Linked DNA regions of Homo sapiens: region 2 is linked to region 1. The links come from fine-mapping of genetic effects on gene expression. A gene starts in region 1. The other region holds a variant in brackets. All regions are shown on one strand. Distances are between the middles of the regions.

Region 1 (15,310 bases):
AGCTCCAACATGAAATTATCTTATTTGCTGTTTGTATCTCTGGATCAGAATGGAAGTTCCATGATGCTTTGACTGTGGTTTTCACTACTGTATCTTTAGCACGTAGAACAGTGCTTTGGCACATAGTTGGGCCACCAAGTTTTACTGTTGATTCAATCAATGAATTTGATTTGAAATCATGGACGTATTTACTGGTATCAACATAAGAACCCTAAGAAAAATTTCTCATTTCTGAAATAACCCTTCTTGTCCTATTTCAATAAATTCCCCAAGTTTTAACCTAGACACAGTAAAGACCTTTTCTATATATTGCTGATGAATTTATTACAAGGTGCCCTGCCCATAAACAACTTTTGGGAAGGTGAAGGAGTTACCTTTACAGAGCCAATGGCAGAATTAGGATTCAGACTCAGGTACTTCTGACTCCAAATCTTACACTCCATGCTGTCTCTCTTATGTATCTTAAGTCACTTAAAATATCTAGATATTTAAAAGGCTGCAACTTCAGGCATTATTTTTCCACTAGTACTGTGTAGGACAAATGTGATTCCTTCTTTATATCCTTCTAGCCTAATGAATATTGATTGAGTGCTAGAACTTGTGCCAGGCATAGGGGATAAAATCATAAGCAAAACCAGACATAAATGATATTCTCACTGATTTTATGGACTAGAAGGCAGGAAACAGATATTGTTTTTTTTAAAAAATCTAACAATAAACTCTAAATTCAAATGATAAAAGATTCATTAAAATACTCCAAAAAATTCTATTTAACTGAAGAGATAAAAGCAAGTAGCTGTAAATAAAGGTGGAGCAATTTTTAAAAACACACATATTAGTACACTGGTCAGTAATCTTTTTCACTTGAATGTCATCTAGAAGGGTAAAGAACTATGCCTTTGTGTGTAAATATCAGACCTAAGGTAGGAGAGAAAAAGAAAAATTAGAGGAAAAAGGGGCAGATTTCAGTAGTTTCAATAACAACTGCATTAGGAGTAATGATGGTACTCTTAGTTACATATTCCTGATTAGAAGTTTATTTGGATTTAGAAAAAAAAAATCAGTAATAATATTTAAATAATATTTTACTGTTTTCACATCTATTACCCCATCCTTAAAATTCTCATTTTATGGATGAGGTAAATTGAGGCTCAGGGCTAAGTATGGATGCTCCTCAGCTTATAAAAGGGTTATGTCCCAATAAATCCATCATAAATTGAAAATATCCTAAGCTGAAAATGCATTTAATACACCTAACCTGCTGAACATCACAGCTTAGCCTGGCTTACCTCAAGCTTGTCGAGAACACTTACGTTAGCCTATAGTTGGCCAAAATCATCTAACACAAAGCCTACTTTATAATAAAGTGTTGAATATTTCATGTAGACACCCAGATGGGCATTTTGTAAACACGATGGGATGCAAAAACAAAACCCAAAAACCCTGGCAATACTAAGTATTGGTTGTTTGCCCTTGTGATCAATGGCTAACTGGGAGCTGCGGCTTGCTGCCCCTGCCCAGTATTGCAAGAATACTGCATTATCGTTAGCTTAGGAAAGGATCAAAATTCAAAGTACAGTTTCTACTGAATGCACACTGTTTTTGCACCATGGTAAAGTCAAAAATTTTTAAGTTAAACTATCTTAAGTTGAGGACTGTCTGTAATTAGTCTGAGATCTTATGGTCTCATAGCTAGGCAGATTAGTACAGTTCCTCTGACTTAGTCAACAAACACTCTGAATACCAGCAGCTTCCTGCTAAATTTGGGATAGAGACCAAATACCTTAACAAGCCAATAAATCTTTGTAGGGTGCAGCTCGTCTCATGTCCTACTATGCTCTCTCTGGTCCTCTGCTTTCAAGGGCTCTTTGATTTTAATTCCACAAACATGCCATGTGCTTTCCCTTCTCAGGGCCTTTGCCTAGCCCCTGCCCTGTTCAGAAAGCTCTCCTTTTCTTTGCCTGCTCATGTTTATCCTTCAGAGCTCAGTCTGAATGTTTCTTCCTCTGGAAAGCCTGATGACTCCTTTAGGTTATGTCTCTCTCATGATGGTTTTTCATAGTACTGCACAGGATTCTTTTGCAAACCCTCTCATAATTTACACATTTATGTGACTCTCAGTTGTCTCCCCAAGAGACCAGCAGTCAGCCAACTATAGCCCATAGACTACCACCGCCTGTTTTTCTAGTTTTATTCATTAGAACTAGATAGTTTTATTAGAACACAGCTCATTCATTTATGGATTAATCTATGGCTACTTTCATGCTACAGTGGCAAAGCAAATAGTTGTGACTGACCTTACAGCCTACAAAGCCTGAAATATTTATTAGGCTCTTTACAGAAAGTTTGTCAACCCCTGCACTAAACTATACAGTCCTTGAGAGCAGGGACCACATCTGTTCTTGCTCACTACTGAATCCCCAATGCCTACACAATTCTGGATGCTCCATAGATACTTGCTGAATGAAAGGCACTGTGCTTGGCATTATGTATACACAATGATGAATAATACAAAGGAGAAGCATTTGGCCCTCCTTGAGAATAAAGGATCAAGAATGGCTATTTGGATGATGGTAGAACTATATTAAATCTGAGAGAAGTTATCCAGACAGGATGAATGAAATCAGCAAAATCTAGGCATGGGCTGCCTTTGCTATTCTCTTGGCTTCTATTTATTATGGGGTTAAGGAGAGCTGAGAATACAGAAGGATATGTAAAACATTATTCCTTATATGTGCTCAAATATTCACATAATATTTTGCTTAGTCCTCCCAATCCTATGAGGTAGGTATTGACACCCACTGGCAGTAGAACTTTGGGTTTCACTCCACTTTGGAAGCCATAAGGAACTGGAAAAACCATTGGATATTCATAGTAGGGTGTCATAATCACTATTCCAACTGTGTCATGGGCAGTTCAGTGCATAAGCACTCATTAAGAATGTCTTTACAGGCCGGGTGCAGTGGCTTATGCCTGTAATCCTAGCACTTTGGGAAGCCAAGGCAGGCGGATTGCTTGAGCCTAGGAGTTTGAGATCAGCCTGGGCAACGTGGGAAGATTCTGTCCCTACACAAATTACAAAAACTAGCTGGGCATGGTGGTGTGTGCCTGTAGTCCCAGCTACTTGGGAGGCTGAAGTGGGAGGATCACCTGAGCCTGGGAGGCACAGGCTGCAGGGAGCCGAGATGGCGCCAAGGCACACCAGCCTGAGTGACAGAGACCCTGTCTCAAAAAAATAAAAAATAAAAATAAGTAAGTCTTTGCAGCCATATTAATAGGTAGGGGAGATGAAGTGCCCAGAATCAGTGTTTCCAGCTCAAAGTGGAATAACAGATCCTTAATAATTTGAAGAGTTTTGTACAGACTTAAACATCTGTACAAAACCCCAAACCTTTCCTTTCATTGTTACTACTTTTGTTTCTTTGATACCTATCTTGTGGATTTGTTTGTTCGTAATAGCGAGATACAAACTCAAGAGTTTAAAGGTTTAACCAGTTTCACAAAACTACTAAGTCATAGATTGTGGATTGGAACTCTGGCCTATCTTGCACCAAGCTCCTCTTTGCTGGAAAAGGTCAAATTTTACTTTTGAAAAAACAACCAAGCAAACATGTAAAGTGTTGTCCCATTAAATTTAAGCTGCAAGTTTTATATTAATTTACTGCTAATTTTACAGCTGAAACACTTCAGTGTATAGCCAGTTACTTTTCTGTCAGGAATTCAAAAGAACAGGCATTAACAGCATATATTCTTACATGCTGGTCTACTAACGTGCTACACTAGTTGCACTAGAATAACTAAGGTCCTTCCATTGGTCAGAGGTCAAGGTTTTCAAATCCCTTGATTATTGACATTATTAGGCAAGTTTAAACTACTTGTATAAAATAAACATTCAATATTTGTTTAGTGAGGAAGGACACAAATCCTACTAGTTGTAAGAAGAGATTTAAGGTTTCTCCAAGAACACTCAGATTCAAGTGGGATAACTTTTATGTTAAAACATTAACATGTACTTATGGTCATTTATTTCCCAGTATGATATACACTTCAAAGTTCATTCTCTAAGAACATTTAATTTTGTTTTCATTTGGATATGTAAAAGTCAACAAAGATGGCAGCTGGATGACTTCCTGGAGTTCAAAAGTGCTACCTCCTTTTTGTAAAATCCATCATAATGTGTATGTATGCTAAACACTCAAATACCTAACAAAAGAGACCTTGTGAATGACCCTGGCAGCTAAACAGCAATCTCACAGATGGAGGATCAACAACTGCAGTTTTGACTGCAGCTGTTACTGGTGTGGATTAAAATGAAACAATGAGCAAAATAGCACAAGTAACAATATGGAGTATAAATAACAGCGTAGAAGTGTTTGGGTACCGAATGGCTCAGCGTACCTGGCACTGAAGATTCAAGAAGGTGAACAGAGATAAGAGGTGCCTATTCGCCTATTTTGTGGACAACCTTAAAACGGTTTAAAAACTGGGAGGGAAGTTAAAAAACTGGGGGTGAAAAACAACGACGACAACAAAAACCTAGCCCTAGAAACATTTCTCTGAATAAAGTTAGATGTCTTCAGGACACCCTGTTAACAGGGGTGCCAACAGGTTGGAAACTTGTGGGTTCCAGTATTCACTTATTTTCCCAAAGTCTACAATGTGACTGAAATGTACTGAGAATTCCAGTGAGAATAAGGCAGACGTGGCCTGAAATTTATGATGCTGTCTACCAAAAACCTGGGCTCGAGGCCAGCACCTAAAAAAACAAAATCAAAATTTGATCAGGCCACAAAAGAAAACAGGACACCCTCAAACACAGATTACCTTACGTTGGCTCCTGACGAGATTACTAGCCTCTTGTCACCAAAAAACGGAAACAACGGCTGAGAAAGAAGCCGGGCGCGAAGCCCAGGCCTTCAAAGGTTCGCTTTAAGAACAGAAAGGCAGTGCTTTCCTCAGTCCTCGCCCCTTGGGGCGAGCTGGGCAAGTCGGGGCAGCAGGCAGCGGCGTCGCCCAGCACAAGGCGTGAATCCGGGAGGAGGGCGTGGCACCTTCTCTTCCCGTTCGCTCGAGCAGGCGCGACCCCACGGGCATCGTCTCCCTAGAGAGCACTCAGGCATCTATGACACGACGCCTTGCCTCACCTCTCCGCAGGGCCGGCGAGAAATGCCCGCGGGGCCTTGAAACCCAACGATCTCCTCTGCCTTGGGAGAGAAAGAGCCGCCAAGCCTGGCGACTATTCATGTCCTCAGAGTTTTCCGGTGGGAGGGAGGCGGAAGACGGGGTAAATCTCGCACAGGCTTTCGGGCAAGGTAGTTCTGGCACCACAGGAATGCTGGGAATTGTAGTTTTCGCTCTGTCACAAGCTCACCTCCCAGCGCAGGCGCCACCGTGGTCCCACGAAACTGGGTCTCTTCACAGACAGACCCACAGTTCGCGAGCATGGCTCAGCGCTGCCCCGCTTCTCCCAGCGCCCCTTCCCGACCTTTGAACGCCTTCACCGCCCTAGGAAAGCGAGATCTTGTCAGAGAACCTTCCGGCGCCTGTTTCCTGGCAGTGGGGCATAGTCCAACAGCTGGCTCCCCCAAGATAGCCAGCGGCCATTACGCGCTTGGGTCGGGGGAGATGGAGTCGCATTTAGCCGCACAGCAGCCTGGAACCTGAAGTTTTCGGCCGCTGAGCGTTCTGGGTGATTGCGTAGTGCGAGGGCCAACGAAACCTTCTGGGAAGTGTAGTCCAGCAAGCCGCTCACTTTTCGTGAGGCGTCACATCCTGCTGCTTCACCCTCTGGTGCACGGGAGGACCAACTATTTCAGTCGGTATGTCCTTTCTTTAGGGAAGCCGAATTCCTCCGTTTCTAGGAGAAATTCCTTGAATTTTCACCATTTATCCTTCTCAGACCTCAGTTACTCAAGACTGCTCCGCATAGTAAAATGCTGAAAGCAACAATGCACAGTAGTTGTATTAAAATGCACTAATACTCATGAATATTCTCTGTAAGTTGTAAAATGGCACACAGTTGTGCGGTGTTAGTGGCTTACTCTCTCAAGATTCTAAACAATTACGGCTAGGTTTCTATCTATATGTATTCAAAGCTTTGTGAGAGTCAACTAAGTAACAAACACCATTTCTAAGGCCCGAAGCACATTGAAAGAACAAAACTTGATTCCCGCCAACAACTGCTTTAACAGACAATTCATGAAGAGGAAATATAAATTGCTATTTAAAACACTGGGATGGCTGGGCGTGGTGGCTCATGCCTGTAATTCCAGCACTTTGGGAGGCCGAGGCGGGCAGATCACCTGAGGTCGGGAGTTCGAGACCAACCTGACCAACGTGGAGAAACCCTGTCTATATTAAAAATACAAAATTAGCCGGGCGTGGTGGCACATGCCTGTAATCCCAGCTACTCAGGAGGCTGAGGTAGGAGAATCGCTTGAATCCTGGAGGCGGAGGTTGCAGTGAGTCGAGATCACACCATTGCACTCCAGCCTGGGCGACAGAGTGAGACTCGATCTAAAAAAAAAAAAAAAAAATTGGGAAAAAAGTTTGATCTTACCAGTTTCAAAATACAAAACGCAAAACCTTAGGGTATATCGAGGTTAGGGGTCCCAATGATCCCAACAGGATGTAAGCATAGTACTCAACAGGTGCTTTTTCAACCCATGCCCCTCTGTCCGTCTCCCCCTTTCCTCATCTAATGATCCTCAATGCCTGTTGTTTCCACGTTTACCATCATATATTCAATGTTTAGCTCCTACTTATAAGTGAGAACATGTGTATTTGGTTTTCTGTTCTTGGCATTAGGTTGCATAGGATAATGGCTCCAGTTCCATCCATGTTGCTACAAAGAGTATAATTTCCTTATTTTTATGGCTGCATTATATTCCATGGTGTATATGTACCACATTTTCTTTATCCAGTCCACTGTTGATGGGCACTTAGGTTGATTTCATGTCCTTGCTATCGTGAATGGCACTACAATGAACATACGGTTGCATGTGTCTTTTTTTTTTTTTTTTTTTTTTTGGCTTGAGGCAGGGTTTTGCTGCGTCACTCAGGCTGGAGTGCAGTCGTGCATGGCTCACTGCAGCCTCAACTTCCTGGGCTTAACTGATCCTCCTGCCTCAGGCTTCCAAGTAGCTGTGACTACAGGTGTGCACTACCACAACTGGCTAATTTTTGCATGTTTTGTAGAGATGGGGTCTTGCCATGTTGCCCAGGCTGGTCCAGAACTCCTGGGCTCAAACTATCCACCCGCCTAGGCCTCCCAAGTGCTGGGATTACAGGCATGAGCTGCGGTGCCCAGCTCTGTGTCTTTTTGATGGCATGAATTATTTTCCTTTGGGTATATACCCAGTAGTGGGATTGCTGGGTTGAATGGTAGTTGTATTTTAAGTTCTTTGAGAAATCTCCAAACTGCTTTCCATAGTGGCTGAACTAGTTTGCATTCCCATCAACAGAGTATAAGCATTCCCTTTTCTTCACAGCCTAACCAATATGTGAATTTTTTTTCTTAATAATTGCCATTCTGATGGGTGTGAGATGGCATCTCATTGTAGTTTTGATTTGCATTTCTCTAATGATCAGTGGTGTTGAGGATTTTTTCATGTTTGTTGGCTATTTGTATGTCTTCTTTTGAGAAGTGTGTGTTCATGTCCTTTGCTCATTTTTTAATTGGATTGTTTTATACTTCTTGGTTTGTTTAAATTCCTTATAGATTCTGGATGTTAGACCTTTGTCAGATGCATAGTTTGCAAATATTTTCTCCTTCCCATTCTTAGGCTATCTGTTTACTCTGTTGGTAATTTCTTTTGCTGTGCAGAAGCTCTTTAATTAGGTCCCACTTGTCAGTTTTTATTTTTGTTGTAATTGCTGTTGGGGACTTAGCTATAAATTCTTTTCCAAAGCCTGTGTCAAGAAGGGTATTTCCTAGTTTTTTTTCTAGAGTTTTTATAGTTTGAGGGCTTACTTTTAAATCTTTAATCCAGCTTGTGGTAATTTTTGTATATGGTGAGAGGTAGGGGGGTCCAGTTTCATTCTTCTGCATATGGCTAGCCAGTTATCCCACCACCATTTACTGAATAGGGAATGCTATCCGTGTTGCTTATTTTTGTTGATTTTGTTGAAGACCAGATGGTTTTAGGTGTGTGGCTTTATTTCTGGGTTCTCTATTCTGTTCTACTGGTCTATGTGTCTGTTTTTGTAACACTACCATGCTGTTTTGATTAGTTTAGCCTTATAGTATTGTTTGAAGTCTTGCTTTGTTCTTTTTGCTTAAGATTGCTTTGACTATTCAGGCTCTTTTTTGGTTCCAAATTAATTTTAGAAGAGGTTTTTCTAGTTCTGTGAAAAATGATGTTGGTATTTTGATAAGGATAGCGTTAAATCTGTAATTTGTTTTGGATAGTATGGCCATTTTAACTGTATTGATTCTTCCAACCCATGAGCATGGAATATTTCTCCATTTATTTGTGTTGTCTCTGCTTTCTTTCAGTAGTGTTTTGTAGTTCTCCTTGCAGAGATCTTTCACCTCCCTGGTGAGATGATCCTGAGTATTCCATTTTCTTTGTGCCTATTGTAAATGGGATTGTGTTCTTGATTTGATTCTCAGCTAGAACATTATTGGTGTATAAAAATGCTACTGATTTTTTGTGCATTGATTGTGTATCCTGAAACTTTACTGAATTTGTTTATCAGTTCCAGGGGCCTTTGGGAGAGTCTTTAGGGTTTTCTAGGTGTAGAATCATATCGTTGGCAAAGAGAGATAGTTTACCTTCCTCTCTTCCTATTTGAATATCTTTATTTATTTCTCTTGCCTGATTGCCCTGGCTGGGACTTCCAGTACTATGTTGAATAAGGGTGGTGAGAATGGGCATCCTTTTCTTGTTCCAGTTCTCAAGGGGAATGTGTTTCCAGTTTTGGCCTTTAGCAATTTAGTAATATATTTATGAAACTCCAAAAAGTAAATAGCCAGAGTTTCACTTCTTCTTTTTTTTTTTTTTTTTTGAGACAGAGTCTTGCTCTATCACCCAGGCTGGAGTGCAACGGTGTGATCTTGGCTCACTGCAACCTCAGCCTCCCGGGTTCAAGCAATTCTCCTGCCTCAGCCTCCCAAGTAGCTGGGATTACAGGCATGCGCTGCCACACCCAGCTAATTTTTGTATTTTTAGTAGAGGTGGGGTTTCGCCATGCTGGTCAGGCTGGTCTTGAACTCCTGACCTCAGGTGATCCACCCATCTCGGTCTCTCAGAGTGCTGGGATTACAGGCAACTGTGAGCCACCGCACCTGGCCTAGAGTTTCACTTCTAAGAAGCTATCCATAGTAAATAATCACATCTGTAGCTAAGATTTTTGAAAAGGATGACTATTGCAATGTTATTTATAGTAGTGAAAAATTGAAAATAGTCTAAGTATTCAAAAGTGATTAAATAACTTGCAGAAGTGTCCCAATTTGGAATATTATGCAAGAATTTAGTATTTTTAAAAATAATCTTAGTGACAGGAAAATCCTTAATACATGTATATACATAATTATAATTCTGTATAATTCTTATATACAGGATTATAATTATAATTATATACATGATTATAATTCTGTTAAATGATAGGATCCCTGCTTGGGAGGAGCTAACAGGCTAGTGGAAGATACAGACCAGTAAGTGTTATCACAATATTTTACTTAACTTAAGGAATTATTATGAAAAAAGTGGATCTCTTTATATATTAATTCATGTTACTATTATTTATATTAACATAAAGCTCTCTCTGTAACACACATATACAGTGTTGATTATGTTCTCTTTGATGGAAGTGGCAATTAGATCCAGGGATTCTTAATCATTCTCTGAGGCTGGCTGGAACTATATCAAGTGAGTGCAGGAGCTTGGGTCATCCATAATCTACCATGCAGGCCAGAGAAGCATAGGAAGGAAAAGCAGGAATAGCAGATGAAGTGAGTCCAGATAGTATTCAGCTAATAGATACAGCTCCTCTCTGAGACCTCCTAATGCTCCTGTGTATTTTCAGATTCTCCTTGGTTGCTATTGTTTCTTTGTTAAACATCTTAATTTATAAAAATATTTTTCCATAAATTTGTTAATGTTTTCTCATGTTTGTTGAGAGGAATAGAAAAGATGATGCATCTAAAATACTTAGCACTGGACCTGGCATATACAAGCACCCAATAAACAATAATAATACCTGCTTACTCAGAGTTAGGAAATAATTTCCATGGGTGTCTCATGTTTCTGTATGTTTTACAAATGGAGGTCTTCTCTGCCTTTTGTTGTGGCAGTTTTGTATAACGAACAACCTTAGGAAATATAGCATCTCTCTCTGGAGCAAAAGGCCTCATGCTTACTGCCTATTATAAAAGATTTGTGTTCTCATAGGTCAGGGTTCCTCTCTGTAATGCAATGTACTGTACGTGCTCAGGCATCTACGTAGCCCCAGCTGCATCATCCCCATGAACTTGGGGCCAAGGGGAGCTGACACAAATATGCCGATACTCGTGCTGCTCGCTGCACCATCAGTAATTGGGTTCTTTGTTTCTAGCAAGGAGTCTCATATCTTCTACCAGCATCCATGCAACCATGACAGGATAACTTGATAGCCTGCTAATAGGGTAAGATCTCGGACCCTTCACAATATTATTCTTCTCTGGACTTTTAAACATTTTTCATTTTTCCAGTTTTACTTACAGAAATATCTGAGTGCCAGCTAGGTTTAAGGTTAGATGTGAGGAATGTAAAGAAAACCAGTTCAATCCAACAACTATTCAAGTTCTTACTACGTGCAGGGATTTCTGCTAGGATACGCAAGGATTGCAAAGATTTCTGCTCTCCAGTAATTTGTAATATATTAATAACTGAGAGAATAGAACAAGCATTTTAATAGCCTTCAACACAGAGCTTTAATAGGTTAGTGTCATGTAAATGTTAAGAAAATAATAAATCCTATAATTCAGTTGAAGGTTAAATGCTTTTTGATAATGGTTATCAAGAAGAGATAGGATTTGAACCTTAGGGGTTTTAGTTAGTAGAGGTTGTAAGGCAAGGGGTCCAGGAGAGAGGATTGGAGTGAGCAAGTACAATTTACTCATCGCTTTGCTCCTTCCTACTCAGGGACTTTGCATATGGTAAAGCATCACTACTCAACTTGGAGCTCTTTCTCCTCTTTATCTGGCCAATTCCTTTATATCTTTCAGATTCCAGTTTAAATGGTGACTTTTTAGAGTAACTCTTTAAGAAGTCATTCCCACTCAAACAACATGCAGATTTGGTACTTTTGTTATGGACTCATACAGCAACCCAGCCTTCCCATGTCTCTGCACTTAATATTTGTTTTCTCCATTATGGTAGAGACCATATGTGTCATGGTGTCTCCAGTGCTTATCATGCCTGGGCCATAACAAGCTTTTGGTAAGTGTGTGTTGAATGAATGAGTGAATGTTCAAAATATGGTCATAGTTTGGTGAGGAAACTTCGTAGACTGGGGCATAGGAATTATATGAAGACTGGGTGGAATTGGGGTGAACAAAATGAAAAAGGTAGAATAAAAAAGACTAAGGAAATTGAATTTCATACAGTGGACTTGCAGGAGATTTTGAAATTTTTTGAGCTAAAATAGATAAAAATCAGTTTGAATTTCTTTCTAGAAAATAACTATTTGCCATTTGCTAGTGTAGGCAAATGAATCCTTTCCTCTTCCAATGTCTGATGAGATGGCCTGGACATGAGAAATGCTCCCCTGCTGAAAGCAGCCTAGTTTATCTAAATCTCAAAGGCCAACAGGGTAGCAGGGAAGTGGGTCCTGGTTTTTTTCATTGCAAATAACCACTTTTTTTTTTTTACCTTTATAAGCTCCCATTTAAAACACAGCTTACACTCTTTACCAACAACATGTATGAAGCCACTACTTATTTTCCTATTTTCCATTAATTCAAGATAAGTTACTGTTGGTGAGTGGGAGATAAGCAGTGCTGATTTAACAGTAAGCTGATAAATTTACAGGGGAAGGCGAAGATACTTGCCAATTTCTTCAGTGGTTTCCAATTTCATCTCCAGCAATGATACAATTTTTTGAGGCATTTTAATATGTCCAAATCCTCTTGAGGACCCCATTGCTCCAGTACTCTTTCCTCTGATGTTTAGAGGTCTGGGGTCCCAGCTTGGGCACAATTGTATCAGATGACCAGAGATCACCCAGGACTACGACTATAGCTCTGGTGACTTCACGGAGAGAGAATGCAGCCTGGACCACTCACATGTGTCAGTCATTTTCTCTTGGAATAGGTGATGTGAAGGAATCTCGATGTGTTTTAAAGCCTGTGAATGAGGCATTGAGAAAGAGAGAGCTCTGGACCAAATGGGTTTCATTTTCTTCCTTAGCTTACTTGGAGCTCTTGCCACTAGGGGGAGGATGTGAAAAGAACCAAGGACAATTCTTTGCTTCTTTGCTCTCATCTCTGAAGCTGAGTCAGAGGGCCCATTGTCACAAAAGCTTTGTGTAGCTTTATGTTAATTTCACATTTTGCATGGCTGGAAAGTGACTATCAGCCCGTATTCCCTGAAAATCTGGGGAAATTTTTTTTTTCCTAATTATACAGGGAGGCTGGCAATGACACCCGATTCCGAGTTTGCCCATTAAAATAAATCAAAGAAAAGAATGATTAAAAGAATGGTAGAAAAGAAGAAGAAAGAGCTGTCAAAACATTATATACTTTGCAATGTTACATCATAACCTGGTGTCTCTCATCGATTACTCATTTTTTCTTTGAATGACTATTGAACACTATTTATGGTGCCAGGCACTGTGCTAAGCCATGAAGATATAAACATAAAACACAGTCCTGCTCTCAGATTGTCAACAGTCTATTGTAATAAATATTATGATGAAGGGTAGTATAGGCTGCCAAGGGAATGCATAAGAGAGGCTTATATTACCCTAAGCAGGGATCCGTCGGAAGGCATTAGTTTGAAAGGATGTGTGAAAGACAGTTTGGTTAAATGGATTTGGTGAATGGTGGTGTGGAGTACGTTGTGTGGAAAAGGCAACAGCACTTGCAAAAGCCGGGAAGTGTGTGTGAGAGAGCCTGGTTCATTTGGGAATGGAGAGAATGGCTGGAGCAATGGGTTAAGGGTAGGGAAATTCAGAAGGTGAGGTTGGAAAAGGTGAGGCTGGCCTTCAAGGTCTTTTTTACTTTATCCATGAGTAAGAGGAATCACTGAAGGGCATTAGGCTAGGGAGTAGCTTTGAAAAGAAAGGTGGCCAGGCATGGTGGTTCACCCTGTCATCTCAGCAGTTTGGGAGGCCAAGGTGAGAGGATCAGTGGAGCCCAGGAATTTGAGACCAGCCTGGGCAACATAGCGAGCTCCTGTCTCTATAAAAATTAAAAAAAATTAGCCGGGCAATGGGACACATGCCTGTAGTCCCAGTTACACAGGGGGCTGAGGTGGGAAGATCTCTTGAGCCCAGGAGGTCAAGGCTACAGTGAGCCCTGATTGCACCACTGCACTCCAGCCTGGGCAACAGAGACCCTGTCTCAAAAACGAAAACGAAAAAATGAAAAGAAAAGGAAAAAAACCAAAAGGGTGTTTGCCTGCCCTTTGCTGAGTCCTTCAGCGGTCAAGGCTGTGTATTTCACCTAGATTCCCTGTCCTAGGTACTGATCTGGAAAACCCTAGACATCTGCCCCTTTCCTGGTCAGAGAAGACCCCTGGCCTGGCAGAGCCTACAGCTCCAGCCTCAAGGTACCTGATTGGAGAAGTCCTCCTCATTGTATGACTTGGCTGCCTTGGACCTCACTGGGAAAGACTAGGGAAATAGGATTTTGGGGTCTTGACTTTGGAATTCATTTTCCGCACTGGGGTATAGCAGAGCTGAAAAATCTCACTAAACTCTCAGCATGGTCTGTATCCTTCCTGTCTCCAACAACAAGGTGGGGCATTCTTCCTCAAAAATTCTTCACATGTAGGTGTTGCCTCATCTCTTATCTCACACACATGAGCTCATTTGAGCTCTTTGGCAACTCCGTGAGCTGGGTACCATTGCTCCTGTTTCATAGATGGGAAAACAGGTTCAGAAGGCTGAAGTGACTTGTCCCAGGTCACAGAGCAAGTACGTGGTAGAACTCATAATCGATTGTGCTGCACACTGCATAGATAAGTCACCCCTGTTCCTTCCACCAATTTATTTTAACTGGGTACATGGCACAAATTGTGAAATTATGTGTACTCTTAGGGACACATCATCCCTCATCCTCCAAGAAACTGTTAGTACAGAAGTGACAAATGGGTTTCATCTTCATGCCAATACCCTTCAATTGACCGTGGCTGCTTAGAACAAAGTGATGAGTGTTGTGAGGCCATATCTTGGTGCAGCAGTAAAGAATACATGATTGATTGGTAGTATCTGATATGAATGCAGGAGAGAAAGGGGGCAGCACATATGCCATTTCTAGATTATATATTCCCCTTAGGCTGCCATAATCCTGCACTGGCCATGACATTTCCACTGACTCCCACCTTCATCCCAACACCCATTTTGCTCATTTTCTCTTATTCCTTCCCTTCCTTGCTGAAATTGTTCCCACCCATTTAACAATAGCTTCAACTTACTGAGGGTTTAGTGGGTACCAGGCACTTTGCGTATATTATTTCTAATTCTCCAACAATCATGTAAGGTAGGTAGAGACAAAAACAAGACTTAGAGGGGTTAAGTAGCTTGTTCAGGGACATACAACAAGCTGGAATTTCAACCCTGAAGCACATGGAAAACTTTGCATTTTTATAATGGGTAATGAAAACCTTCATATTCACTGTTTGCTTTGAGCCTCACAACAGCCTCGGGAGGTAGTTTTCTGGGTTTGCAACTGAGGGAGCTTGAGGCTCAGGGGAGAGGCGCTGATTATTTAGTGACATAGTCACAGCTCCTGACTCCTACCTCAGGCCTTTTCCTGCTACTACCTTAGGCTCTGGGGAAGAGCCCTTGACTCCACAAAGCTATCTCTTAAGAACTGATCTATACTACTGTGGGGAGAATTTGGGGGCCCTTCATTGATTTTACTCCTGCCAGCCTTACCCTGTTTTCAGCTCTTATCATCAAGAAGGTCTTTCTTTTATTGTTAGCTCTTTGTGTAATTTAGGTCATTTCTTTAAAAAAATTTGTTGAGAAATTCACGTCACATAAAATTAACCATTTAAACGTGAACAACTCAGTAGCATTTAGTACACTTACAATGTTGTGCAACTACCACCTCTATCTAGTTCCAAAATATTTCCATCACTCCAAAGTAAAATTCCTGACC
Region 2 (15,310 bases), 150 kb after region 1:
GGGGCTCCCTGGACTTCAGTTTTTCTATTCACAGAATAAAGGGATTTTCCAAAAACAATTCTTGGGAACAACATCAGATCTGTGGTATATTGTATTAGTTATCAATGCCTGTGTAACAACCCACCTCAAAACCTAGTGGCTTAGAGTATCAACTATTTATTATTTTTAAAGATTCTGCAGGTTGCTTGGCTTCAACTATATTGTTTTGTATTCTGTATGGTCTTGGCTGGATTCTCTTACCTGGTTGTATTCTGCTGGGAAATTGGTTGGGGTTAGAACATCTAAGAAGGCTCCACTTACTCAGCTGAGGTGGCTGGAGAGGCTGGTGACTAGGTAGATTTCTTTATCCAATAGCATAGTTAAAGTTCTTACATAGCAGCCAGTTGCTAAGAGAGCAAAACAAGAATCTGGCAGGCCTCCTAAGGGCTAGGTCCAGAACAGACACAGCATCACTCTTGCCACGTTCTACGGAACAAAGTAAATCACAAGGCCAGCTTAGATTTTAGGGGTGGGGAGATGGACTGTTGATAGGAGGAGCAGCCTGTGCATATAGGGATGAGAGAAATTGGTGGTGGCCAATCCTGGAGACAATCTACACACACTATGAATAAAGAATTCCATGGTCATGTAAGTGTAGGAAATCTGGGTAAAACGCAATTAAGAAGGTTTCTTAGCAGCAAATCTTATTAGAGTTGTTAAAATGCTCATCAAAGTGCCAAGAATAATGTAAAGTAAAGGCAGTAAAAGAAGGGTTACAACTTTTAATTTCTAGCCTAACTTCACCCTTCCTGACCTTCCTGCCCAGATCAATCGATATGAGAGAAGAGGAAAAAAATGTAGCTAGCCAACCAGGAAATATTTATGGTTAAACTGGCTACTATACACAATTGCAGTCTTTGAGAGATGTAAAATGTCTCCAGGAAGTTGCAAAGGACCTGGACCAATTTCAGTATTTTTTCCATCCTTCATGGAAACAGATACTTTTCTTATTAAAGCCTTCTTCTGCATTAATAGGGACTCTGGACTTGTTGCTGAGCAAATGATTTCTTTCTGCCTTCAGAATCAGATTTTTAATGAGTTGCAATTATAATTGTTGTGGGAAGATAATGAAATCTGGGATGACTTTTCAATTTATGTCTCATATTAAGCAACTGGCATTTTATTAACTGTCTGGTCAGCTCAAAAGCACAAAGATGACCCAACAGAGTGGCTGATGCTCTGCAGAGACGGTGTGTGTGTGTGGAAGCAGCCTCATGTGGAAGAAATGAACAGGCTCTGCAACCTGCCTGACCTGGCTTTGAAGTCCTTTTTCTCTGCTTACTTCTTGGGAATCCTTGGGGAAGTTACAGAATTTCTGTGAGCCTCAGTTTTCTTATCTATAAAATGAGGATTAAAAGTACGTAACTTCTAAAGGTTTTAGATTGATTAAATGTAATATTATATGCTTATCTTTTTATTCCAATCACTCATTTAACAAATATTTAGTTATTGAGTGCCTAGTGAGTTGCAGGCAAGGTACTATGTGCAGGGTAGCTAGTTATGTGGGGAGCAAAGAGAAACTTCCAGGCAGAGGGAACAGCAAATTCTAAGTTTCTAGCCTAATAAAGAACTTAGTGTGTTTCAGGATCTGATACAAGAATGATCAGCATACAGTGAGGGGAAAGCTGATAAAGTAGGCAATGGAAGGAACGTGTAGGATGTAGGTAAGAAGCTTCAACTTTACTAAGTGCAATAGGAAGGCATCGTGGGATTCTGAGTACAGAAAAACATGGTCCAATTTACAGTACTCAAAAATCACTTCAGCTCCCTCTGTAGATTGGATTGAAGGTGAGCAAGAGTGGAGAGGAGGGAAACAATTAGGAAGACATGGCATAGTCCAGGAAAGAGTTGATGTTGGCATGTGCTGGGGTGGTGGTAGTGAGAATAAATATAAATTGACAAAATATTTATAGTTGAACTGGCAGGACTTGATCATGGACTGGATATAGAAAGTGAGAGAGATAAAGGGGTCAAAATTAATTTTTCTGGGTTTTGGTCTGGAAACTGGGCAGGCAGAGATTCCATTTTCTGAGAGGGGGCAAGGGCAGGTTTGCAGTGGGTGTCAGGGAGAGCTTCAGTGTGGGCATGCTATGTTTGCAAGAGAACCAGTTTAAGATGCCAAGTAGTTGACTAAATGTCTGAGACTAGGGACAAGATCTGAGGTCTTGGCTGCAGATATGAGCTTGGGGTTGTTAGCATACAGACACGGTTTAAAGCTGTGGCACTGGGTGAGATCAGAGAGGAGAAGGGCAGGAGTGAGTCTTGACCTGAATAAGATTGAATAAAGAAGAAGGAGCTAGTGGCAGAATGAGGGATGGCCAGCAGGGTGGGGGAAAAACAAAAGCATGGTGCTGAGGAAGCTAAGAGAGGAAGGAGAGTGTTTGTTAGAGGAAATATTTGAATGCTACAGAGAAGGTGAGCATGAGGAACAGTGAGTGGTCTGCCCATTGGATTTAGCACCATGGTGTGGTGTGGGTACTGGAAGAAAGAATGGGAAGTAAGGAAGTAAACGTAGTACAAATTGATACCTCTTTTGAGAAAGTATATTAGGAAGAGAGGAATGGAGGAGGTGTCTTAGAAGGAGATGTGAGATCACAGGAAGTGCAGCAGGTATTCTTGGTTGTTTCCAAAATACCCATTCTCCCCTTCTTCCTTATTGCTCTGTTTTGGGACAGCAGGATGTTTAGTTAGAAAACTGTATTTCCCTGCCTCCCTTGCTATTTGGGGAAACCAGTGAGATGTAAGTAGAATTCATTGGGTGGAGTTTGTATCTAATCTCTCTTAAAGGGACAGACTCAGTTATCTTCTTCCCTCCATATTTCCTAGATGGCAGACATGATGCCTATATTGTGTCAGGCCAGGTTTCACTAACAGCTGAACAGGCAAACCTCTAACAACTGTTTCAGCACTGACTGAGTGGTTAAGTTAAATATTAAAAGCTGAAAGAGTCAGTACCCTTATACAAAGGCTGGAATGTAACAAAAACCCACCAAGAGTTTTGCCCAGGCCTTTCTTGGGCCTTGAAGTATGATGAGATAATGAAGGAATTCTTAACAAGACCCGTTTAGGATTAAACAAGTTTTATTGAGGGTCTGAAGAAACTCCCAAGACCTCTAAAAACAAGTTTTATTGGGGATCTAAAGGAAATCCCCAAACCTCCATGATTTAGCAGGAGAGAAGATTGCCCCCAGCACCTGGATCCATCCAGATTAAGTAAATTTACAGAGGCTCCAGAGGAAGGTCTTCAAAACTCAGACCTTAGTTATTCACTCGTGTCCATATGAAGAGACCACCAAACAGGCTTGGTGTGAGCAACAAGGCTGTTTATTTCATCTGGGTGCAGGCAGGCTGAGTCTGAAAAGAGGGTCAGTGAAGCGAGATAGGGGTGGGGCTGTTTTATAAGATTTAGGTAGGTAAAGGAAAATTACAGTCAAAGGGGAGTTGTTCTCTGGCGGGCAGGAGTGTGGGTCACAAGGTGCTCAGTGGGGGAGCTTTTTGAGCCAGGAGAAGGAATTTCAGAAGGTAATGTCATTAGTTAAGGCAAGGACTGGCCATTTTCACTTCTTTTGTGGTGGAATGTCATCAGTTAAGGCAGGAACAGGCCATTTAAAATTCACTTCTTTTGTGATTCTTCAGTTACTTCAGGCCATCTGGATGTATAGGTGCAGCTCACAGGGGATAATGATGGCTTAGCTTGGGCTCAGAGGCCTGACATTCCTGTCTTCTTATATTAATAAGAAAAATAAAATAGTGTTAAAGTGTTGGGGTGGTGAAAATTTTTGGGGGTGGTATGGAGAGATAATGGGCGATGTTTCTCAGGGCTGCTTTGAGCGGGATTAGGGGTGGCATGGAAACTTAGAGTGGGAGAGATTAAGCTGAAGGAAGATTTTTTGGTAAGGGGTGATATTGTGGGGTTGTTAGAAGGAGCATTTGTCGTATAGAATTATTGGTGATGGCCTGGATACGGTTTTATATGAATTGAAAAAAGAACAGAATAAGACAAGGAGAAAAACAGGTATTAAAGGACTAAGAATTGGGAGGACCTAGGACATCCAATTAGAGAGTGCCCAAGGAGGTTCAGCATAGCCCTGCCAGCAAAGATTTATTTACTTTAAGAGGGTGTTAAGAGTGGCTATTTGGAGATAGCACCAGGAGATATGAGCTGTGATGGCTTGGAGAAACAGTGTAAACCGGCAGTGTAAACAAAAGCAGGGCATTTATGAGAAGTTGAGAATGGTGAATAGGAGTATGACTAGACAGAAGATAGTAGGGATGACAAGTTTTTTGGGGCACAGTCCAAGTTGGTCTGGTGTCTGGAATGAGACTGGGGCCTAATAAAAAGGAGCGTCTATACAGGAGCTCAAATGGGCTGTACCCTGTAGCATTCTGAGGACAGGTCCGAATTCTGAGAAGGCAAGTGGTAAAGGTATTGTCCAGTCCTTTTTAAGTTGGTGGCTGAGCTTGGTGAGGTGTGTTTTTAAAAGACCATTAGTCCGTTTTACCTTTCCTGAAGATTGAGGACCATAAGGGGTATGAAGGTTTCACTTAATACCAAGAGCCTGAGAAACTGCTTGGGTGATTTGACTAATAAAGGCCAGTCTGCTATCGGAGTGTATAGAGGTGGGAAGGCTAAACTGAGGAATTATGTCTGACAAAAGGGAAGAAATGACCGCAGTGGCCTTCTTAGACCCTGTGGGAAAGGCCTCTACCCATCCAGTGAAGGTGTCTACCCAGACCAAGAGGTATTTTAGTTTCCTGACTCGAGGCATGTGAGTAAAGTCAATTTGCCAGTACCGAGCTTGATGCGTAGGGAGGGGAGGGGGGGCCTGAGAAATCCCTGAGGAGGAGTAGAATAGCAGATGGAACACTGAGAAGTGATTTCCTTGAGGACAGATTTCCATGATGGAAAGGAAATGAGAGGTTCTAAGAGATGGGCTAGTGGCTTGTAACCTACATGGAAGAGGTTATGAAATGACGACAGAATAGAATGGGTCGGTAAGACTAGAAAAGCAGCCCAAAGTAGCTGCATGGTCTGCAAAGACTTTTCCGTATTTTATTCAAATAGCACCTCATCAGCAAACCTTAGCGAATATTCAAACTCGGTTTCGACAGTCTTCTGAATCCCAGTCAAAACATTTCAACGTACATCACTTCATCTGATCCCCCCGCAATAGGCCTGGCAGTGACTTGGGGCTGGAACCAGTATCCAGTACCTACCACAGTGCTTGGCACATGGTAATAGCTCAGCGAACTGCCATCATTTTATAAAGGAAGAGACAGGCTGGAAGGAGATATTTTCCTTGGTCTAAGAACCATTTGCCTTGTGTGGGAAGAGATTGATAAGTGGAAGTTTCAATGGGGGAGTGGGAGGGAGTGACCAAAGTGAAGAAGAAAAACTGACCGTGAGGGACAGAAGTTGGAACGCTAGCTGCTTTTTTAGCTAACTTATCAGCATAAGCATTGTCCTGAGCGATGGGATCTGATGCCTTTTTGATGGCCCTTGCAGTGAATGACTCCAGCTTCCTTTGGAAGTAAAGTGGCTTTGAGAAGCGTTTTTATTAAAGAGGCATTAATGATAGAGGACCCTTGTGTAGTGAGGAAACCTGTTGCATGGTGGTGCAGGATATGGAAGGCATGTTTAGAGTCAGTATAAATATTGATGTGTAGTCCTTTTGCAAGAGTGAGGGCTTGACTTAAGGCAATGAGAGGTAGTGGAGGGGGGCAGAGCTGTAGCCTCAATGATAGATGTGGAAGATACAATGGCATAGCCTGCCTTTGCTGGTGAGTGGCGATTAGGCCTGTTGGAACTGCCATCAATAAAGCAAGTGTGTTCACGGTGAGGAACAGGAAAGAAGGAAATATGGGGAAATGGGGTGAATGTCAGGTGGATCAGAAAGATACTGTCATGGGGGTCAGGTGTGGTATCTGGAATAATGTGGTAGGCCCAATTGAAGTCTGGGCCAGGAACAATGGTAATTGTGGGAGACTCAACAAAGAGTGAGTACAGCTGAAGGAGCCGGGGAGCAGAAAGTGTATGTGTCAGGTGTGAGGAAGAAAATAGATTTTGGAAGTTATGAGAACGGTAGAGAGTGAGTTGAGCATAGTTTATGATTTTAACGGCCTCTACAAGTATTAGGGCAGCGGCAGCCACTGCACGCAGGCTTGAGGGCTAGGCAAAAGAGTCAGGTCAAGTTGGATAAAAAAGCTACAGGGTGTGGTCTTGGTCCTTGTATAAGAATCCTGACTGCACAGCCCTGCACTTCAGCTGTGGGTAATGAAAAGGGTTGGGATGAGTCAGGGAGAGCTAGGGTGGGGGCAGTCTCTAAAGCTGTCTTCAAGGAACAGAAAGAGGAGTGGGGAAAGGATTTAGGATCTATGGGGTCAGCTAGGTTTCCTTTTGTGAGTTTATATAATGGTTTTGTTAGGATGGCAAAACCAGGTATCTAAAGTCGAAAGTATCTAACCATGCCTAAGAAGGAAAGGAGTTGTTTTGTAGAAGGTGTTGGGGTTTGAGAGATCAGTGGGACATGATCAGCAGGGAGAGCATGTGTGTTTTTATGAGAATTATGCTGAGATAGGTAACAGATGAGGAAGAAATTTGGGCTTGACTGAAGTAATGGGAGCTGTCTGTGAAGCTTTGTGGCAGTACAGCCCCGGTAATTTGCTGAGCCTGATGGGTGTCAGGGTCAGCCCAAGGGAAAGCGAAGAGAGGCTGGGATGAAGGGTGCAAAGGAATAGTAAAGAAAGCATGTTTGAGATCCAGAACAGAATAATGGATTGTGGAGGGAGGTGTTGAGGATAGGAGAGTATATGGATTTGGCACCACGGGGTGGATAGGCAAAACAATTTGGTTGATAAGATGCAGATCCTGAACTAACCTGTAAGCCTTGTCTGGTTTTACGACAGGTGAAATGGGGGAATTTTAAGGGGAGTTTATAGGCTTTAAAAGGCCATGCTGTAGCAGGTGAGTGATAACAGACTTTAATCCTTTTAAAGCGTGCTGTGGGATGGCATATTGGCATTGTGCGAGGTAAGGGTGATGAGGTTTTAATGGGATGGTAAGGGGTGCGTGATCAGTCACTAAGGAGGGAGTAGAGGTATCCTATACTTGTGGGTTAAGGTGGGGAGATTCAAGGGGAGGATGTGAAGAAGGCTTTGAACTGGGGGAAAAGGCAGCAAGGAGGTGTGGCTGTAGCCCAGGAATAGTCAGGGAAGCAGATAATTTAAAGTGTCTCAGCCTAATGGGGAGGTCGGGATAACTGAAAAGGAGTGCTTAAAAGCGTATTGTCTAAGTTGACACCAGAGTTGGGGAGTTTTAAGAGGTTTAGAAGCCTGGCCTTCAATGCCCACAACAGTTACGGAGGCAAGGGAAACAGGCCCTTGAAAAGAAGGTAATGTGGAGTGGGTAGCCTCCGTATTGATTAAGAAGGGGACGGACTTATCCTCCACTGTGAGAGTTACCTGAAGATCGGCATCCCTGATGGTCTAGGGGGCTTCTGAGGTGATCGAGCAGCGTCAGTCTTCAGCTGCTAAGCTGAAGGAGTCAGTCAGAGAGCCTTGGGCCAGAGTTCCAGGGGCTCTGGAAGCGGCTGCCAGGTGAGTTGAACAGCCTGATTTTCAGTGGGGTCCTGCACAGATGGGACATGGCTTAGGAATCCCAGGCTGGGGGCATTCCTTGGCCCAGTGGCCAGATTTCCGGCACTTGTAGCAAGCTCCTGGGGGAGGTGGGGTTGGTGGAATGCCTGGCAGCTGCGGTTCAGGCGTTTGGAAGTTCTTGTGTGCTGGAGATGTGGCTGGGGTTTGTCTCACAGTGGAGGCAAGGAATTGCAACTCAGAAATACATTGCTACTTGGCTGCCTCTACTCTATTATTGTACACCTTGAAGGCAAGGTTAATTAAGTCCTGTTGTGGGGTTTGAGGGCCGGAATTTAATTTTTGGAGCTTTATTTAATGTCGGGAGCAGATTGGGTAATAAAATAAAATGCATATTGAGAGTAAGACGGCCTTCTGACCTTTCAGGGTCTAGGGCTGTAAAGTGTCTCAGGGTTGCTGCTAACTGGGCCATGAACTGGGCTGGGTTTTTCGTATTTCATGAGAAAGAGCCTAAATGCTAATTTATTTGGGAGAGGTCGGATAAAGAAAAAGGAGCATTAACCTTGACTATGCCTTTAGCTCCAGCCACCTTTTTAAGAGGAAATTGCTGGGCAGGTGGTGGAACAGAACTGTAAGCCGGACCGAGTGTGAGGAGGGAAGGTGATAAAAGGATTATAGGGTGGAGGAGCAGAGGCTGAGGAAGAATTGGGACCTAGCTCGGGCTGGCGAGGAGGGGAGAGGTCAGATGGGTCTGTAGAAAAGGAAGATTAGAAAGACTCAGCGACGCTTGGGGTTGGGACTGAGGGGACAGGCAGGAGGGAAAGAAGAAAGATTTGGGACAAGTTGCATTGGGAACAGAAACTAGAGAGGGACCGATTTGTGAAAGAACGCCTGGCCATCAGGCACCTCAGATCATTTGCCTATTTTATGACAAGAATTATTTAGATCTTGGAGGATGGAAAAATCAAAAGTGCCATTTTCTGGCTATTTGGAACCACTGTCAAGTTTGTATTGGGGTCAAGCAGCATTGCAGAAGAAAATAAGGTGTTTAGGTTTTAGGTCAGGTGACAGTTGAGGTTTTAAGTTCTTGAGAACACAGGTGGATCTTTCTCACAGAGCAAAGAGCAGGACAGGGGATTGATCTCCCGAGGGAGATTCCCCCCTCCCATCCAAGTCAGGGCACGAAAATTTCACTCGCGTCCATGTGAAGAGACCACCAAACAGGCTT[T/C]GTGTGAGCAACAAGGCTGTTTATTTCACCTGGGTGCAGGCAGGCTGAGTCTGAAAAGAGATTCAGTGAAGGGAGAATAGGGGTCGGGCCGTTTTATAAGATTTAGGTATGTAAAGGAAAATTACAGTCAAAGGAGGGGGGTTCTCTGGCGGGCAGGAGTGGGGGTCCAGGGTGCTCAGTGGGGGAGCTTTTTGAGCCAGGATGAGCCAGGAGAAGGAATTTCAGAAGGTAATGTCATTAGTTAAGGCAAGGACTGGCCATTTTCACTTCTTTTGTGGTGGAATGTCATCAGTTAAGGCAGGAACAGGCCATTTAAAATTCACTCCTTTTGTGATTCTTCAGTTACTTCTGGCCATCTGGATGTATAGGTGCAGGTCACAGGGGATATGATGGCTTAGCTTGGGCTTAAGAGGCCTGAGAGTTATAGATTAGAAGTTAATCACTTGCGTCTTTAGAGGCATACACACTTAAATGTAGACGTATAGCTTAGAAGGTACATAAGCTCTGGAAAACTTTGTAATTTTGAGTTGGTCTGGCAATATTTTCCAGGCCTTCTTTCTGTACCTGGTTACAGAAAAAAACTCCCCTCTTTTCCCAGTTCATCTGCATCTCATTATTGGGCCATAAGAATAAACAGCCTGACCCTCGGTTTGGTCCAGGAACAATATGAAGCAACCATGAGAAGACCTCCAGGAGAGAAGCGCCAGTTAAGGAAACAGAATAGAAAGATTGGGAAGTAAACTAGGGCATGAAAAATATTTTTAGAGATGAGATACCAGAGTATGTTTGCATGTTGGTGTGAGCCAGGGGCATGATGGCAGGACTGCAGCCCTTGAAAAGGCCAGAGTAGAGAGATCCTGGGCATATGTTGATGACTTGGCCTTTGACAGGCTGCTGCAGAGGGTGTAGGACACTTCCAGTGCTCCTTTCCTGAGGAAAATACCTGTGGCAACTCTCACATTCCATTGCCCTTTTCATCCTTTGTCCTTTTCCCCACAGACTGGAAACTTCTGTCTCTTCCTCCTCAAAGTCATTCCTCACACTGCTGCCACAGTGAGCGTTCTAAAACGCACATATGATTTTTAAAACACTGAGGAGCTCCTCATTGCTTACAGGATGAAGTAACATCCTTGCCTTGTATTTAGACATTCTCTCCTTGGTCTTTTCAGCTTCCAGTCTTCAGCATTTCCTAAGCATTCTATGTACCAGGCATACCTGGCTGTTTGCACGTCCCTAAAGGTGCCTGTATTTTCCCCACTATATGCATTTCTTCATACTTTCCCCTTGTCCTATACCCTTCTTTCTTTCTCTTTGCACAGATTTACCTTCAAGGAGCATTCTCTGCCTACTCCCACTCCAGGTTCCCACTGCAGATTCTCCTTAACTCTGTGAGCTGCCCAGAAGTCTCCCATAAAATATATATTCTTGACTAAATTAGCTGGAGTTTATGGATCAGAGATGCCATATAAAATATAATTTTGGCCAGGTGTGGTGGCTCACGCCTGTAATCCCAGTACTTTGGGAGGCTGAGGTGGGTGAATCACCTAAAGTCAGGAGTTCAAGACCAGCCTGGCCAACATGGTGAAACCCTGTCTCTACTAAAAATACAAAAATTACCAGGCATGATGGTGGGTGCCTGTAATTCCAGCTACTATTGGGGAGCTGAGGCAGGAGAATCACTTGAACCTGGGAGATGGAGGTTGGAGTGAAAATTATATATATTATTTTATATAATACAGTTAGTCCCTTGCAATAATTTCAGACATTCCCTTTAAGCAAAGATTATTCTCCTCAGGTGAACATTCTGTCCCTCAGGTTTCTGACTGCAGTTCTGCTCCTTGCTAAGACAGCCTCTGGGTGATCGGGGCCAGGTTGTGGCTTACAGTGTCCTCTTGGCAGTGGGAAGGAAAGAGTCCTTTGGATTCACGTGGTGTCCTGAGATCATTCTGGTTGCTATGACAGTGTCTTTTGTTTCTATGACAACATCCCTTGTTGACTTGAGGGATGCTTGCCCTACTGGCATTTGTATCTGAAATCAAAACTGGTATTGCTTGCAGCCCAGTTTCTCTAGGTGTGGCAGAGGCTGCAGTGCTTCCTGGCTACCAATCTCACTCTCCGCAGAGCCTCTCATGTTCCCCATTGGTTTCAGGTTGGGGGTGGGATGGGGCGTTGGAGTAGGGCTCAGCCTTCTCTGCTAAGTCACCCCTTACCACAGGAGGTCCCATGGTTGGAATGCTGGCTCTCAGATTCAGCCACCTTCTGGTTCCCATTTTTAGGGCCCATTGGGGACTCCCAGGTTCCAACATATCTTACAGAAAGAGCAGCTCAGGAGAGCTGAGCTCTGGCTGTCCCATTCTGACCATGCTGTGCCACTGAGTTTTACTCTGATGTGGCCAATCCCCAAGTTCTTATGGACATGCTAGGGTATCTGGCCCACAAGATGAGACTTCCTCTTTTTTTTTTTTTGAGACAGTCTTGCTCTGTCGCCCAGTCTGAAGTGCTATGGCACAATCTTGGCTCACTTCCTCTCAGGGTTCCAGATAGGTCAGAGGGCTCCTGACCATGCCCTAATTGTTCTCCTCACTTATAGGGTTTCAGCCCAAGGAGAGAAACTGGAACAGTTTGTCTACCTCCCGACCTTTTTTTCCTTTCTTCTGTCCACCCTCTGCCTTCTGTAGCCTTGGATTATAAGGGATGGGCTTCTCTTTTACTTCTTCTATTTCATGGTATCTTCCTTTTTCCCTGCCTGTAGGAATTCTCTTGCCTCAGCCTCCCGAGTAGCTGGGATTACAGGTGTGTGCCACCATGCCTGGCTAATTTTTGTATTTTTAGTAGAGACTGGGTTTCACCATGTTGGCCAGGCTGGTCTTGAACTCCTGACCTCGGGTGATCCACCTGCCTCGGCCTCCCAAAGTGCTGGGATTACAGGCATGAGCCACCGCACCTGGCCTTCTACCTCTAGTTTTATGGCTCTCTAATCTACATTATAGGGAAAATTCTATATCAAGCTGATATGTTAAATGCACATAAAAATTTTAGACTTTCAGACCTATTGTCTTGCTTTCAGCAGCTATTATTTTTCTTTACATTTCTTCTTCAACAATCCAACTTTCCCTTTGCCCATCCCTTTCCCCACCTGCTGCCAGCAAAGGTAGATAACATGGCTGACTGGAGAAGTACGTGTAATGTACATGTAAGTCTATATTAGTATTTTCAAGTATTTTCTACCTTTCACTAAATAATCCTGACACAAGCAGCATGATACACAATTCATAATTTGCCTGCAGATAACTTAATCTTGTCTATTTGCTAAGGCCTTTCCAAGTATTATCCAAAAGGGAGTTGATTCAGAGCACAGAGAAAAACAGATGGGACCAGTGCATTGGCAGTGGCAGGAAGGCAGGAGGCTCAGGTCAGGTTTGATGAGCGGAAGCTAACCCCACACCTCCTGATGCCGTGGAGTGTTGCAAACCACCTGGAACCCAAGTGTCACCTGTGGAGACTGCAGGAAGCAGAGGCAAGGGGGGGTTGACAATCGTAGGTCACTGGATAAACCACTGCATTTGACTGAGTGGATCTACACACGAGTAGGGTACTTTATGAGGAAAACTGAGGGCTGACTTAATAACAATTCAAAATGATGCTACATAAACAAATTTTTACCTTCGGATTTTTTACTACAAACATTATCTCCCTCTTAAGTTGGCTTTGTTGCCCTTTATATCAATTATTCACTAGTTATTTTTCCATGCCTCAGATGTGTGAAACCCTTAAAGAATTACAATGAAGATGTTTACCATCAAGTGTGGAAAAAAGTAGCGTGAGCCTGAGATAATCAAGAGACCATTAAATGTCAGAATGTGAGAGACTTGAAGCCTCTTGAAGACTCTTTTTTCTTTTTGTTTTGAGACAGTCTCGCTCTGTCGCCAGGCTGCAGTACAGTGGCACAATCTCAGCTCACTGCAACCTGTGCCTCCCGGGTTCAAGCGATTCTCCTGTCTCAGCCTCCCAAGTAGCTGGGATTAGAGATATGTTCCACCATGCCCAGTTAATTTTTGTATTTTTAGTAGAGACAGGGTTTCACCGTGTTGGCCAGGCTGGTCTTGAACTCATGACCTCGTGATCTACTTGCCTCAGCTTCCCAAAGTGCTGGGATTACAGGTGTGAGCCACTGTGCCTGGTCTCTTCAAGATTTTCTTAAGCAGAGGGTCCTGTACTGGATCTGCTGAGTCAGAAAGAAATAAAGAGATGAAAAATGATTGGCCTCAGGTTTCTCATTGTTGGAGTAAGAGTTTACACACAAGTCAGAGGAAGAGGCTTGATTGGTCCATGTGGTGATGAGTTAGACTAGAGATATCAGTAGAAACTCATGTTTAGCTTAATATAGATACAGATGGTTGCATATATAAATGTTTCTATATTCACCAGTTACTATACACATATTCATTACCTTGCTCTGTCAACTGAGAGGATCTAGAGGAAATAATGTCCCATTAGCAAAGAACACACCTAGTACCCAGATTTTAATTTTTAATAACATTCTCCAATAAAAAAGCCTTGGAGAAATGGCTGACTCTAGGATTGGTAGGACTGGGCAAGAAATATACAAAATAAGCCTGAGCCTCTTGTAGTATAGAAAGTAAGAAAATGCTCAAAAAATCCACAATAGTGGGAGTATGTCAAAGGAGCATCAGAGTTAACTGAAAAAGCTCTCAATGGACAAAGCTGAAACAATTTGTATAGCAAAATAAAGTAGTTCTGGATTATAATACTATCAGATAAACTAAACTGCAAAACTAAACTAAATAAACTATAAAACTATCAGATAAATATCCAAGAATCCCTCTTGATAGAAACAAATTATTGAATAAATAGAGGCAAATGGACAACTCTTCCATACAGAAAAGTTTCAAATAATTCATGTAGCTACTTTGCACTTGTATTAGTCCACTTAAATACTGCTGTAAAGAACTGCCCAAGACTGAGTAATTTATAAAAGAAAGAGGTTTAATTGACTCCCAGTTTAGCATGGCTGGGGAGGCCTCAGGAAATTTACAATCATGGCGGAAGGGGAAGGGGAAGGGGAAGCAAGACACCTTTTTCACAAGGTGGCAGGAAGAAGTGCCAAGTGAAGAGGGAAGACCCCCCCTATAAAACCATCAGATATTGTGAGAACTCACTCACTAGCTAGCACAAGAACAGCAGGGGGCAACCACCTCCGTGATTCAGTTACCTCCACCTGGTCCCTCCCTTGACACGTGCGGATTATTTGCATTACAATTCAAGATGAGATTTAGGTGGGGACACAAAGCCTAAAAATATCAGCAATCAAGGATGAAAAGCATGACTCCCTACTCATTAAATGTGGGCTTCACACAGTGACTTCTTTCCAAAGAGTACAGTATGAAATGGAGGAAAAAAGAGTAACTTTACAGTAGAAAAACTTGAAAAACAGTACCTGGGCCAGGTGATCAAGGTTAGATCCACAGTAATAGTCGTGGACCCTTGATGTGGTAAGAATGGCACTTATCTACCCAAAACCTGTAATATCAGTCTAATCATGAGAAGAACATCAGGTAAATTCCAGTTGAGAGGCATTCTGTGAAATACCTGACTGGTATTTCTTAAAACTGTCAAGGTCATCAATAACTGAGAAAGTGTCAAAATGAAAAGGAGCCTAAAAAGACATAACAAAATATCACACAGTTCCCTGGTTAGAACCTTGGAAAAGTGTAAATGCCAAAAAAAATCAGAATAAATCATAGTCTTCAGTGAATAATGATATACCAACATTGGTTTATTAATTGCGACAAGATATTAACAATAGAGGAAACTGAGTTTTGGTGTGTATGGAAAGTCTCTGTACTACTTTTGCTTTCTTAATGTAAATCTAAAGCTATTCTAAAATAATGAGTTTTTTTAAAAACATGGCATGATGGGGAAAAAAATCACTGATAAATGGGAATCATTTTTTTGTATCTCTCATGTGATAAATAAGTTTAACTCTCTAAGCCTGTTTATCATTTTCACTTGCATCTGTGTGAAAAGACCACCAAACAGGCTTTGTGTGAGCAACAAGGCTGTTTATTTCACTGGGTGCAGGCAGGCTGAGTCCGAAAAGAGAGTCAGTGAAGGGAGATAGAGGTGGGGCCATTTTATAAGATTTGGGTAGGTAAAGTAAAATTACAGTCAAAGGGGGGTTCTCTGATGGGCAGGAGTGGGGGTCACAAGGTACTCAGTGGGGGAGCTTTTGAGCCAGGATGAGCCAGAAGGAGTTTCACAAGACAATGTCATCAGTTAAGGCAGGAACCAGCCATCTGGATGTGTACGTGCAGGTAACAGGGGATATGATGGCTTAGCTTGGGCTCAGAGGCATGACATTCCTGTCTTCTTATATTAATAAGAAAAATAAAATGAAATAGTGGTAAAGTGTTGGGACAGTGAAAATTT

Alleles and levels. Positions count from the first base shown, and alleles are read on the strand shown. Sizes are in standard deviations (SD) of each study's normalised expression.
For the expression in testis of the gene that starts at base 5,392 in region 1, T is the low allele of the variant in region 2 and C is the other (small effect, 0.31 SD a copy in GTEx).

What was found.
Region 2: its variant is fine-mapped to the expression of CCDC90B-AS1 in testis (GTEx, PIP 0.91).

What each region holds. Positions count from the first base shown.
Region 1 is chr11:83,280,729-83,296,038 of GRCh38, forward strand. It overlaps CCDC90B-AS1 (CCDC90B antisense RNA 1), which reads left to right and starts at 5,392. Exons shown (of 3, transcript NR_186344.1): 1 at 5,392-5,819. CCDC90B (coiled-coil domain containing 90B) reads right to left here and starts at 5,639. Exons shown (of 9, transcript NM_021825.5): 1 at 5,145-5,639. The coding sequence starts at 5,244. RefSeq lists enhancers at 4,412-5,008, 4,897-4,976, 5,009-5,604, 5,027-5,676.
Region 2 is chr11:83,427,298-83,442,607 of GRCh38, forward strand. No RefSeq gene overlaps it. Among named protein-coding and RNA genes, the nearest start is that of CCDC90B, 150 kb to the left of the region's middle. RefSeq lists enhancers at 11,113-11,613, 13,724-14,417. The variant T/C (reference allele first, on the strand shown) is at 8,861.